2 separate regions of the Homo sapiens genome follow, and region 1 is linked to region 2. The links come from fine-mapping of genetic effects on gene expression. A gene starts in region 2. The other region holds a variant in brackets. All regions are shown on one strand. Distances are from middle to middle.

What was found. PIP is the estimated chance that this variant, and not a neighbour inherited with it, causes the effect.
Region 1: its variant is the best candidate, but not a certain one, in a credible set for the expression of OR2L13 in prefrontal cortex (CommonMind, PIP 0.62).

The regions. Positions count from the first base shown.
Region 1 is chr1:247,946,829-247,952,220 of GRCh38, forward strand. OR2L8 (olfactory receptor family 2 subfamily L member 8) reads left to right here and starts at 2,030. Exons shown (of 1, transcript NM_001001963.1): 1 at 2,030-2,968. The coding sequence starts at 2,030. The coding sequence ends at 2,968. It also overlaps a transcript of OR2L13 not described here. The variant C/T (reference allele first, on the strand shown) is at 2,641.
Region 2 is chr1:248,092,068-248,097,459 of GRCh38, forward strand. OR2L13 (olfactory receptor family 2 subfamily L member 13) reads left to right here and starts at 3,117. Exons shown (of 3, transcript NM_001395936.1): 1 at 3,117-3,187. LOC105373275 (a long non-coding RNA gene) reads right to left here and starts at 3,475. Exons shown (of 4, transcript XR_949369.3): 1 at 3,337-3,475.

The DNA of each region.
Region 1 (5,392 bases), 150 kb before region 2:
TCATCTTACAGAATTTATTGCTGCAATACAAAAAAAAACTATTGCATTTGAACATGATAGTTAATATATTTCAGTTGAGAGAAATTTTTTTAAGAATACTAACTTCACTATTATTTTGCTATATCCCTTTCTAGGAATGTCCTTAAGCACATATTGGTCCTCCTGTATGAATCCCCTCATTTTTCTATCTTCCCTAAATAGCAGTCTTTTCATGTGGTTATTGCTTTTGTTTACCTTCAAATAGAGTTTTCTTACTTTGTCTTTTGAAACTTCCGCTTAATATTTTTATCAATTAATACAATTTTAGTTTTCAAAAGTTCTTTAATGTTACGTGTCACATCCTTTCATATAGCAAATGATATTTATTTTATGGATTTCATAACAGATCATACATCTCTGAAGAAAGGAATTTTGATCACAAAAAACTATTCTTTCTGCATATTTTAATCATTTTAAAGTCAGTGTATTTATGCATATGACTGTGTGTGATTGTGCATATTTGTGTGTGTTTGCACACTGGGAATCTTCCTCGTACATGTTGTTATACTTGCTCCAAATTCTGGTGATCTTTGGCTCTAGACTAATATTTAAGCCTAAAAACTCTGGTTCTTTTAGGCTTACTGTGCAAAGCTGTTTACTGATGTCTTACATCTGGAGTGGAATTTCTAACACACCTCTACCTAGAAGTCTGTCAGAATTTTAGTTTCTTTTTTTTATTTAGGCAATTGCATGCTCCTCCAAGTGCATTCTTTTGAAGGATCCATAAAGCAATGTGTAATGTTATCTAATCACTAGAGAAGCAAAAGACAAAATCTGTAACATATTTGGTAAGGGGTCTGCTTTAAATAGAGTATTCTGAAATTAGGCGAGGAGGCCAAAGAGAATGGATGATGATGAATATTGAAAATCAAGAGTGTGGATTAATATGACTTTCCGTAAAAGGGACATAGCAATAAGGATTTATTCTAGGTTTCTAAATAGGAGGACCAAATTATAACTGACAAAAGAAGTTTGACTTGGCATTATTGCACAAAGATCATTCAAGTTTCTCAAAATGAGAGACAAGCTGCTGCAGTTTTAGAAGTAAATCTGACAGAATAAACATGGGTTGGGTGGGGAGCTGTTGCCTGCAATCACAGCACTTTGCAAGGCCGAGACAGGAGGATTACTGAGGCCGAGGGTTCAAAACCAGCCTGAGAAACACAGTGACACTTCATGTCTACAAAAGTATAAAGTTAACTAGGCATTGTGGCACGTGGCTGTAGTCGCAGCTACTCAGGAGGCTGAGGCAGGAGGATCACTTGAGCCCAGAAGTTCAAGGCTGCAGTGAGCTATGATCTTGCCACTGCACTCCAGCCTGGGTAACAGAGAGAGACCCTGTCACTTAAAAAAAAAGAAAAAGAATAAGTGTGGAAATATAACAGATCATTCTATAAAGGTAAGACTAATTTATTCAAATATAAATCTGTAATGTATGCATTTATAGTGACTTTCTATGCATAGGTATTCAGTATAATATTTGACTTTGAATGTATCTGAGTTTGCGTCAGGCAGTAAACCATTCATATTCTATTGAAGTTGTAATAGAGGTATCTTTCTTATAAATTTACATATTTCTCAGAAAAAAACTAGTAACAAATGTTGATCTCATCAAATGTGAAACTCTGGGTAAGAAAATAAGATTTCTTTTTTCAAAATAGGTAAAAATCAGAACAAAGAAGTCTGAGTACAGTACAATAAAAGATTTTGAGAAAGATAGAGATCATATTCACATATTTATAGTATACTGTATAATTGTTCTATTTTATTATCAGTTACTCTTGTTAATCTCTTACTTGTCTAATTTATTAATTAAACTTTATCAGAAGTATGTATAGACAAAAATAATAGTGTATTTAGGGTTCAGTATCAACTGCAGTTTCAAACATCCACTGGGGGGGCTTGGAATGCATCCCCTGCAGATAAGGGCGAATTACTGTACGTAAATTACTCTTGTGTCTCCCTTCCGAATGGATTGTAGGAATGCTCCATGGAAAATTACAATCAAACATCAACTGATTTCATCTTATTGGGGCTGTTTCCACCATCAAGAATTGACCTTTTCTTCTTCATTCTCATTGTTTTCATTTTCCTGATGGCTCTAATTGGAAACCTGTCCATGATTCTTCTCATCTTCTTGGACACCCATCTCCACACACCCATGTATTTCCTACTGAGTCAGCTCTCCCTCATTGACCTAAATTACATCTCCACCATTGTTCCTAAGATGGCATCTGATTTTCTGCATGGAAACAAGTCTATCTCCTTCACTGGGTGTGGGATTCAGAGTTTCTTCTTCTTGGCATTAGGAGGTGCAGAAGCACTACTTTTGGCATCTATGGCCTATGATCGTTACATTGCTATTTGCTTTCCTCTCCACTATCTCATCCGCATGAGCAAAAGAGTGTGTGTGCTGATGATAACAGGGTCTTGGATCATAGGCTCGATCAATGCTTGTGCTCACACTGTATATGTACTCCATATTCCTTATTGCCGATCCAGGGCCATCAATCATTTCTTCTGTGATGTCCCAGCAATGGTGACTCTGGCCTGCATGGACACCTGGGTCTATGAGGGCACAGTGTTTTTGAGTGCCACCAT[C/T]TTTCTCGTGTTTCCCTTCATTGGTATTTCATGTTCCTATGGCCAGGTTCTCTTTGCTGTCTACCACATGAAATCTGCAGAAGGGAGGAAGAAAGCCTATTTGACCTGCAGCACCCACCTCACTGTAGTAACTTTCTACTATGCACCTTTTGTCTACACTTATCTACGTCCAAGATCCCTGCGATCTCCAACAGAGGACAAGGTTCTGGCTGTCTTCTACACCATCCTCACCCCAATGCTCAACCCCATCATCTATAGCCTGAGGAACAAGGAGGTGATGGGGGCCCTGACACGAGTGAGTCAGAGAATCTGCTCTGTGAAAATGTAGAAACACTTTCTGCCTAAGGTCTCAGGACTCAGATACACATCCATTCAGCAGTGTATAGTAATTAAAATATTATGTCCTTCCTAGAGTGCAGGACTAAAACTAACCAACGGAAGAAGAAAATCACTGATATATGGACAAAATTGTTTTACAAATATATATATAATTCTAAGAAACCTTTTTTCTTGATGGCCTTTTTCCAAAAATTTTGAAAGTACATATTTTTGCTAATATGTTGTCAATAAGAATTTTTTTTTTGGTCATGCAGAAATGAAAATGAAAATGGCCTAACTGAAGTTGGCACTCAGCATAACAATTTTATTATTGTCAATTTATTTTCCAGTAATTAAAATTTTTTTTTGGTTATGTCTAAAACAAAACCAAAAATCTCTTGACTTGGTGGATCTAATTGAAAGCCATAAGATGTTTTCTGTTTCTTATCTTAGACACTTAACGTACCAGTTACTCTTTCTTTCAATTTAGGGGGACTTATTATTACTGAGATTTAGCAGAAGGCTCATCAGTGGTTCTTAAGTCCTGATACCACTCTGGATGGCCTGTGACAAGTTTATGCTTTCTGTAGTGGAATGAATCCCAGGGAAATGATTTAACATCAGGTAAATTTTAGATCAACAACAAGTATTGGAAGATGCCATCAGTGATCAAGAATGATTACACTTAGGTCTTTAACCCATTTTATGTTGATTTTGGTATAGTGTAAGAATTGGGAGTTTAGTTTCATTTTTCTGCATATGGATATCCAGTTTTACAAGCACCTTATATTGAAGAGACTGTCAGTTTCCCAATAAATGTTCTTGGCATTGTTGTCAGATATCATTTAACTATGTCAGGCACAGAAAGACAGATTTTGCATGTTCTCACTCCTACCTAGGACCTAAAAATTTTAAAAATTGAGCTAATAGAAATAGATAATAGACTGGTGGTCACCAGAGGATCGGAAGGGTATAGGGGAGGGGGGATAAAGTGGGGACGGTTAATGGTTGTAAAAATATAGATAGCACGAATAAGAGCCAGTATGTGGTAGCACAACAGAGTGACTGTAGCAAACAATAATTCATTGTAGAATATATTGTATATATTAAAAAATAACTGAAAGTTTGGAATTGGAATGTTCCCAACAGAGAGAAATGATACATATTTGGGGTGCTGGTTATCCCAATTACCCTGATTTGATCATTACACATTGTACGTGTTTTTCAAAACATCACATACACTCTATAATTACATATTACTATTATGTATCCATAGTGATTAAAAATAAAAAATTAAATCAGTTAGCTAGAGATACGTGGATTTATTGCTGAATTCTCTGTTCTGTGTCATTGTTCTATGCATCTGTTTTTATGCCAGTACTATTCTGTTTTGATTACTACATCTTTGTAGTATAGTTTGAAGTTTGCTACTGTTATGCTTCCAGCTTTGCTCTTTTTTTCAGGATTGATTTGGCTGTTTGGGGTCTTTCATAGTTCATACAAATCTTAGAATTGTTTTTACTATTTATGTGCAGATGTCATTGGTATTTTGACAGACATTGCATTGAATCTGAGGTTTGGTCATTTAAATAATAATAATTCTTCCAATCCACAAGCATTGGATGTCTTTCGATTTGTTTGTATTCTTCTTCATTTCCTTTCATCAGTATTTTGTAGAAATAAATTCTATTGTTCTCTTCTATGACTAAAGTTAACAGTAAAGTATTACATAGTTAAAATTCTTGAAATGCTCTTTAACATCATTTCTATTTCTAAGCCTGTGGATATTTGTTTTGCAATGTTGTTGCAGTTAAAACACACATTTTGAACTTGTCTTATGAATCAGAGTAAGTCCTTTTTGTGTTTTGCTGCAATGAGCAGTGTATATTTTTATTTTGTAATAGTTTGCTAACAATGTTTACTGCTAATCTTCCTGGCTTTTTCTTTTCTGATATTCAATGAATACAACAGGCGTGGGCTCTGGGACAGAGGGAAAATAGGCATCCCATCAGCAGTCACTTGCTGCTGCCAGGGCAAGCACCTCCTCTCTTCCAAGCTAGGGACACTTGGACCCTACTGCCACCTGCACTGCTGCTTCTGTCATCACCATCAATATGAGCCCAGGCATACCCCAGACACTGCTTGGGTCCTGTGGTGCTGTGAAGTATTACAAGATGTGTGTGTGTTTGTGTGTGTGTGTGTGTGTGCGCGCGTGCGCGCATGAGAAGACCAGGCCAATTGCCCCATGTGGTTGTTGCCTGAGCCCACTTGTGTAGTCACTACCAGTGGACCCAAACTGCGTGCTAACACTGCCAGCCTGTCTAGCTCCTCTATCACATTCATACTCAGAGATGAAATTATTAGATATTTCAATGACAACAGAAGAGCATGAAACCATGCATGGAGCCCTTTGAGTGTGAACCCTGTGCATATG
Region 2 (5,392 bases):
CTCTTACCTTGGCTGCTATTGGTGTATAGAAATGACACTGACTTTTGTACATTGATTTTGTATGCTGAAACTTTGCTGAAGTTATTTATCAAATCAGGGAGCTTTTGGACAGAGACTATGGGGTTTTCCAGATATAGAATGGTATCATCTATAAAGAGAGATATGTTGACTTCCTTCCTTCCTGTTTAAATGCTTTTCATTTTTCACTCTTGCCTAATTGCTCTGGCTAAGACTTCCTACATAATACATATTAATACTTAATGTGTATGTACCTAACAACATAATGTCAAAATAGATGAGGCAAAAACATATAGGACAACAAAAGAGAAATACATAAATCTGCAATTAAAGTTGGATATTCAGCACCCCTCTGTTAGTAACTGATACATCCAGAGGCAGGAAAACAGTAAGAATATAACTGAACAGCACCATCAACCAACTGGATCTATTTCACATCTGTGGACTACTCCATTCAACAACATTAGAATACACACTCATCAAAGTACACCACATTCTGGTCTATAAAACAGACTTTCACAAATTATACCTGCCTCACAGTCTTCTTAGAAGGGTTACACTGGTTAAACCAAAACTTTATTGTCACTAAGAAATTGTAAAGAATCTCTAAACTCATTATAAGCTCCCAGGCTTCATGGAGACACCATCACAGAGTAATTCATTACATCCTGGATTTTTTTTAATTGATCGCACCTACTGAAACCCCTTGTCTATAATATCCATCACCGCTCCAACTTGTTAATGAGTAACTTCCATCTCTGCAGAAAGAAAAAGATGCTCAATCTTTGGTCAGAGCCTCCAAGGAGTATGATTGAATCTTTGACAGCCATATTTTCCTCTAAAGAATTTATGTTTCTGTGCAGATGAAGATGGAAATGGAAATGTAAAAAGGAGATGCTGAGAGGGGCTGAGCCTTGTGCAAAAGTAGAGAGTGGGTTTAGGCAGGAGCACGGTCATTTCATACGCTGTCACAGGAAACAAGGCTGAGTATATGGTACAGAATGAGGGAGGCTGATACAGTTCATGGAAGAAAAGTTTGAAATCTGATTGTTTTATTAACAGGTTTGTTTATTTTTCCCAGAGGAGTCTAAGAGATGTGGAAGTGGGGTAAGGTTTGGGGAAAGCAGGAGGAGGCATGGATCACTACTTTTCAGAGAAAGTCTGCAGAGAACAAGAACATACTGTGACGTGGCAAAAGGGCCATGAGATTTGTATTCATAAATCTGAGATGTATTGTCATAAATTTGAGGTGAGATGCATCATCATATATTGGACTTTCCTCAAGTCACGTTTCATTGCTGTGTATGGATCTTACAGGGACGGTAACAGGCTGAGAATGAGTTTTACCTGGGTTTGAGTTTTGCACTGAGTTAAATGCAAGCAGCACCACATTGCAGCAGGGAAAAACATAGAAGTTACCAAAGACTAACAAGAGCAATAAAAAATCTGTATGTGATCATAACTGGTCCACTCTTCTTATTTAAAGCACTAGAATGGCTTTGTCCAGTTTCGTACTTCATCGTATTTGCATCCAGTATTTATTGAGTCTCATCTCATCATCTCCTAGGACAAAGGGTGCCAAGATAATTCAAGAATCCAGCATTACTTTAGTTCCGGTTCCATCCATGTTGTTGCAAATGAAAGGAATTCACTCTTATTTTTTTTTATGGTTGAATAGTGTTCTATGTATCTAGTAAATTTTCATTATCCATTATATTACATGAAATAAGCCAGGCACAGAAAGACAAACTTTGAGCATTCTTGCTCATATGTGGGAGCTAAAATTAAAAAATAATAAATATAGTAGAATGACTGTTACCAGAGGCTCGGCAGAGTAGAGTAGAGTGGGGAATAAACTGGAGATGATTAATGGGCTCAAAAATACAGTTAGGATGAATAAGACTTAGAATGTAGTAGCACAACAGGATGACTATAGTTAACAATAATTTATTGTATATTTCAAAATAACTAAAAGTGGAATTGGAACATTTCTAACAGAAAAAATTAATAAATGCTTGAGGTAATAGGTACCCCAAATACCCTTATTTGCTCATTACACATTGAATGCCTGTATTGAAACATCACATGTACCTCATGAATATATGCAACCATTAGATAATCATAATAATTCTAAAAAATTAAAGGAAAAAAACAAAGAACATGGATATTAATTTTATAGCATTATTTCTAATTTCTGACATAAAATATAGCAGTTAGTGCCTTCAAAGATAAAAAAAGAACAATATAACCCCAAATAAAGTGTTCTTTTCTAGTTAACCAATGTATGGATTAAAGAGGTTAAGAGATGCTACAGTTGATTGAGCCCTTCCTCTGCAACAGACACTATGTAAACATTTGGCATACATCATTCTATTTAATTATTAGAATGTCCCTCAAATTAGTCCAGTTGTAAAGATTAGTAACAGGCTGAAATCTTAAGTAATTTTCCCAACTCAGCTTCCTAATTAGTGGCATAGCTGTCAGACTAGAGTATTCTCTCTGACTCTAAATGCTCATTTTATCACATTGTCTCTAAGAGTCAGCTTTCACTTTAGTAGAATAGCTAAATGGATATATATTGTCATGTATCAATTATCTACCCCCACCTAACAAGTAGAAGGAAGTGTTTTATCCTAGTATAATTTAATTTAGTCACAATCATCAATCATTCCCCCTGGAAACTCACTAAAGAGTGGACAGGAAACTATCCTTGGGACTAGTTCTGCTATTACTGAGTCGAGTACTTGTAAGTGGTTCCTGCACTTTTTTAATCCGGAATTCTCTAACTTACATGATGACAGAATTTCCATAAACATAATTTAACATCTTCTATAGCTCTGAAATCATGTACTGGAATATTAAATACACCCCTCTTTAGTCTGATTCTGGGTAGCAGCTGAATGCAGCAAAGTTGATTGGGTTGGTTGATTTGCTTTAAGTTCAGAATTTGAGTTCATCCCCAAATCAGCAAAGTCAAGTGAAGTGACCAAGGTTTTGGCCCCCGTGGACTTGGACACTGGAGATCAATTAGAGGAGAAAGAGGAATATCTAAGGGTTGGTGACTTAAGGTTCTGTGTGTAAAATATAGCCATTCATCCTTCTGTCTTCCAATGGTGGAACCTGAGAGACTTCAGTGTAAAATGCCTTATTCTGTTCTCACTGAAACAAGGTAAGAGGAAAGGAAGAGACTTTATCTAAACACTGCATATGCAAACAGGATAATATTTCACAAGAGCTGGTGAAGTTGTTTTCTGATTTCACCATAAAGACAATGACTAGCTGTGGGAGCTGTAAGGAATGAATATTATAAAGTGTTACCTGGTGTTTCTTCCTCATGAATTTTGGCAGATAAAGAAGAGATTCTCACTTCAGAAAGAGTTTTGGTTTAATGCAGAGCCTATTGATCAGTGATATAATGTTATTGATAGCCTGATATACTATCAGAACATAGTTTGATGCTTACATGTTTTAAATAATTATATGGAATGTTTGCAGATTATGATGTCACTGTAAAGCTGCTGCTTTTTTTTTTTTTTTTTGAGATGGAGTCTCACTATGTCACCCAGGCTGGAGTGCAGGGTCACGATCTCAGCTCACTGCAACTTCTGCCTCCCAGGTTCAAGTGATTCTTCTGCCTCAGCCTCCCGAGTGGATGGGATCACAGGCGCATGCCACCACGCCTGGCTAATTTTTGTGTTTTTAGTAGAGATGGGGTGTCACCATATTGGTCAGGCTGGTCCCGAACTCCTGACCTCGTGATCCGCCCGCCTTGGCCTCCCAAAGTGCTGGGCTTACAGACCTGAGCCACTGCGCCTGGCCATAAAACTGCTTTTTATACCACTATATAAACTGAAGAACTTCGGGCAAAGTGAGTCATAGTAATATAACTGAATTGAGTTGATTTGGGTCGGCTTTATCCTAGAAAGCTTTTTTGGAAATGTTTTCCTATCATCAGGAAACTCTCTGCTGCACAGGGAATAGACAGTTCCATAACAAATTGAAAAAGAAGGCTGGGCACCCAGGTGGCTCATGCCTGTAATCCCAGCACTTTGGGAGGCCGAGGTGGGCAGATCACGAGGTCAGGAGATCGAGACCATCCTGGCTAACACAGTGAAACCCGGTCTCTACTGAAAATACAAAAATAAAAATTAGCCGGGCGTGGTGGTGGGCGCCTGTAGTCCCAGCTACTGGGGAGGCTGAGGCAGGAGAAGGGCGTGAACCCGGGAGGCGGAGCTTGCAGTGAGCCAAGATCAGGCCACTGCACTCCAGCCTGGGCGACACAGTGAGACTCTGTCTCAAAAAAAAAAAAAATGAAAACCAAGAGTGAACTAAAAATGTAAAAAAAGGTAACATGAACTTGTTAGAGTTGCACTATGTGCAGCTCTCAAACAATGTGACATTAATAAAAACATTTTCTCAGGGCGTGAGGGCTCTCCATGGTTAACACAGGGAATGGGCAAAGGACAGTGACAATTACTAAGGACCTACTATGTGCTGAACACACAGAACTGTGAATTCTCTTTATAGTTGTCCTATACGTTGTTGAGATTGAGGGAGCTGAGTCTATGACTATTTGCTATTGGTCTCCTGCTGATTGTTTAAAAGAGTTTTAAGAAGCATTCACTAATTGTAATTTTGCAAAATAAATTCAGGACCCTACACTTGCTACACTTACATTGTTAGTTTCTGTGAAATGAGGTGTTTTTTAACTCTATAAATTTCAGCAACGTATCTTTTAGAATGAGAAAGAAAATAAACTTTTTATCTGAGGAATAAGTAGCCCCCTTTAAATTATCAGGCCCAGCAAGATTGAAATGTGGCCGCAGTCACATCTCACTCTTTCTTGAGCTAGGTAATCATCTCTTGAATCTACGTGCTATGGGGGCTCTGGACTGACTTGTGGCAACTAACCATGAATTAACCTATCAATCCCCTAAACCACATATCCTATAGTTAAATAATGCATAACCAATCACTGATCAATGTTGTTTCTGAAACCAGTGAGACTTGCTGATAAATAACTTTAGAATTTGTCTCCACTCCTGATTCCTCCCTTTCTTTACCTTAAAAACTTGGGTCTCTTCTTGTTCTCCAGGTTACTTGCCACAGAAGTGTTTCTGGGCTGCAGCCCTCAACCTTGGCCCAAATAAACTTTCTGTATTAATTTTGCCTTAGTGTCGTTCTTTAAGTCAACAAGGATGGCCAAGGCAGTCACTAATCTCACACTCACCTGATAGCCACAGGAACAACATTTTCCCAGCTATAAGGTAACCGACAGAATGATGCTTCATGTAATTCTGGTGCATGAAATAAGGTCCCATGTCTAACAAGGAAAGCTGCTGGACATCAATGGAAATAGATCCTAAACTCAAAC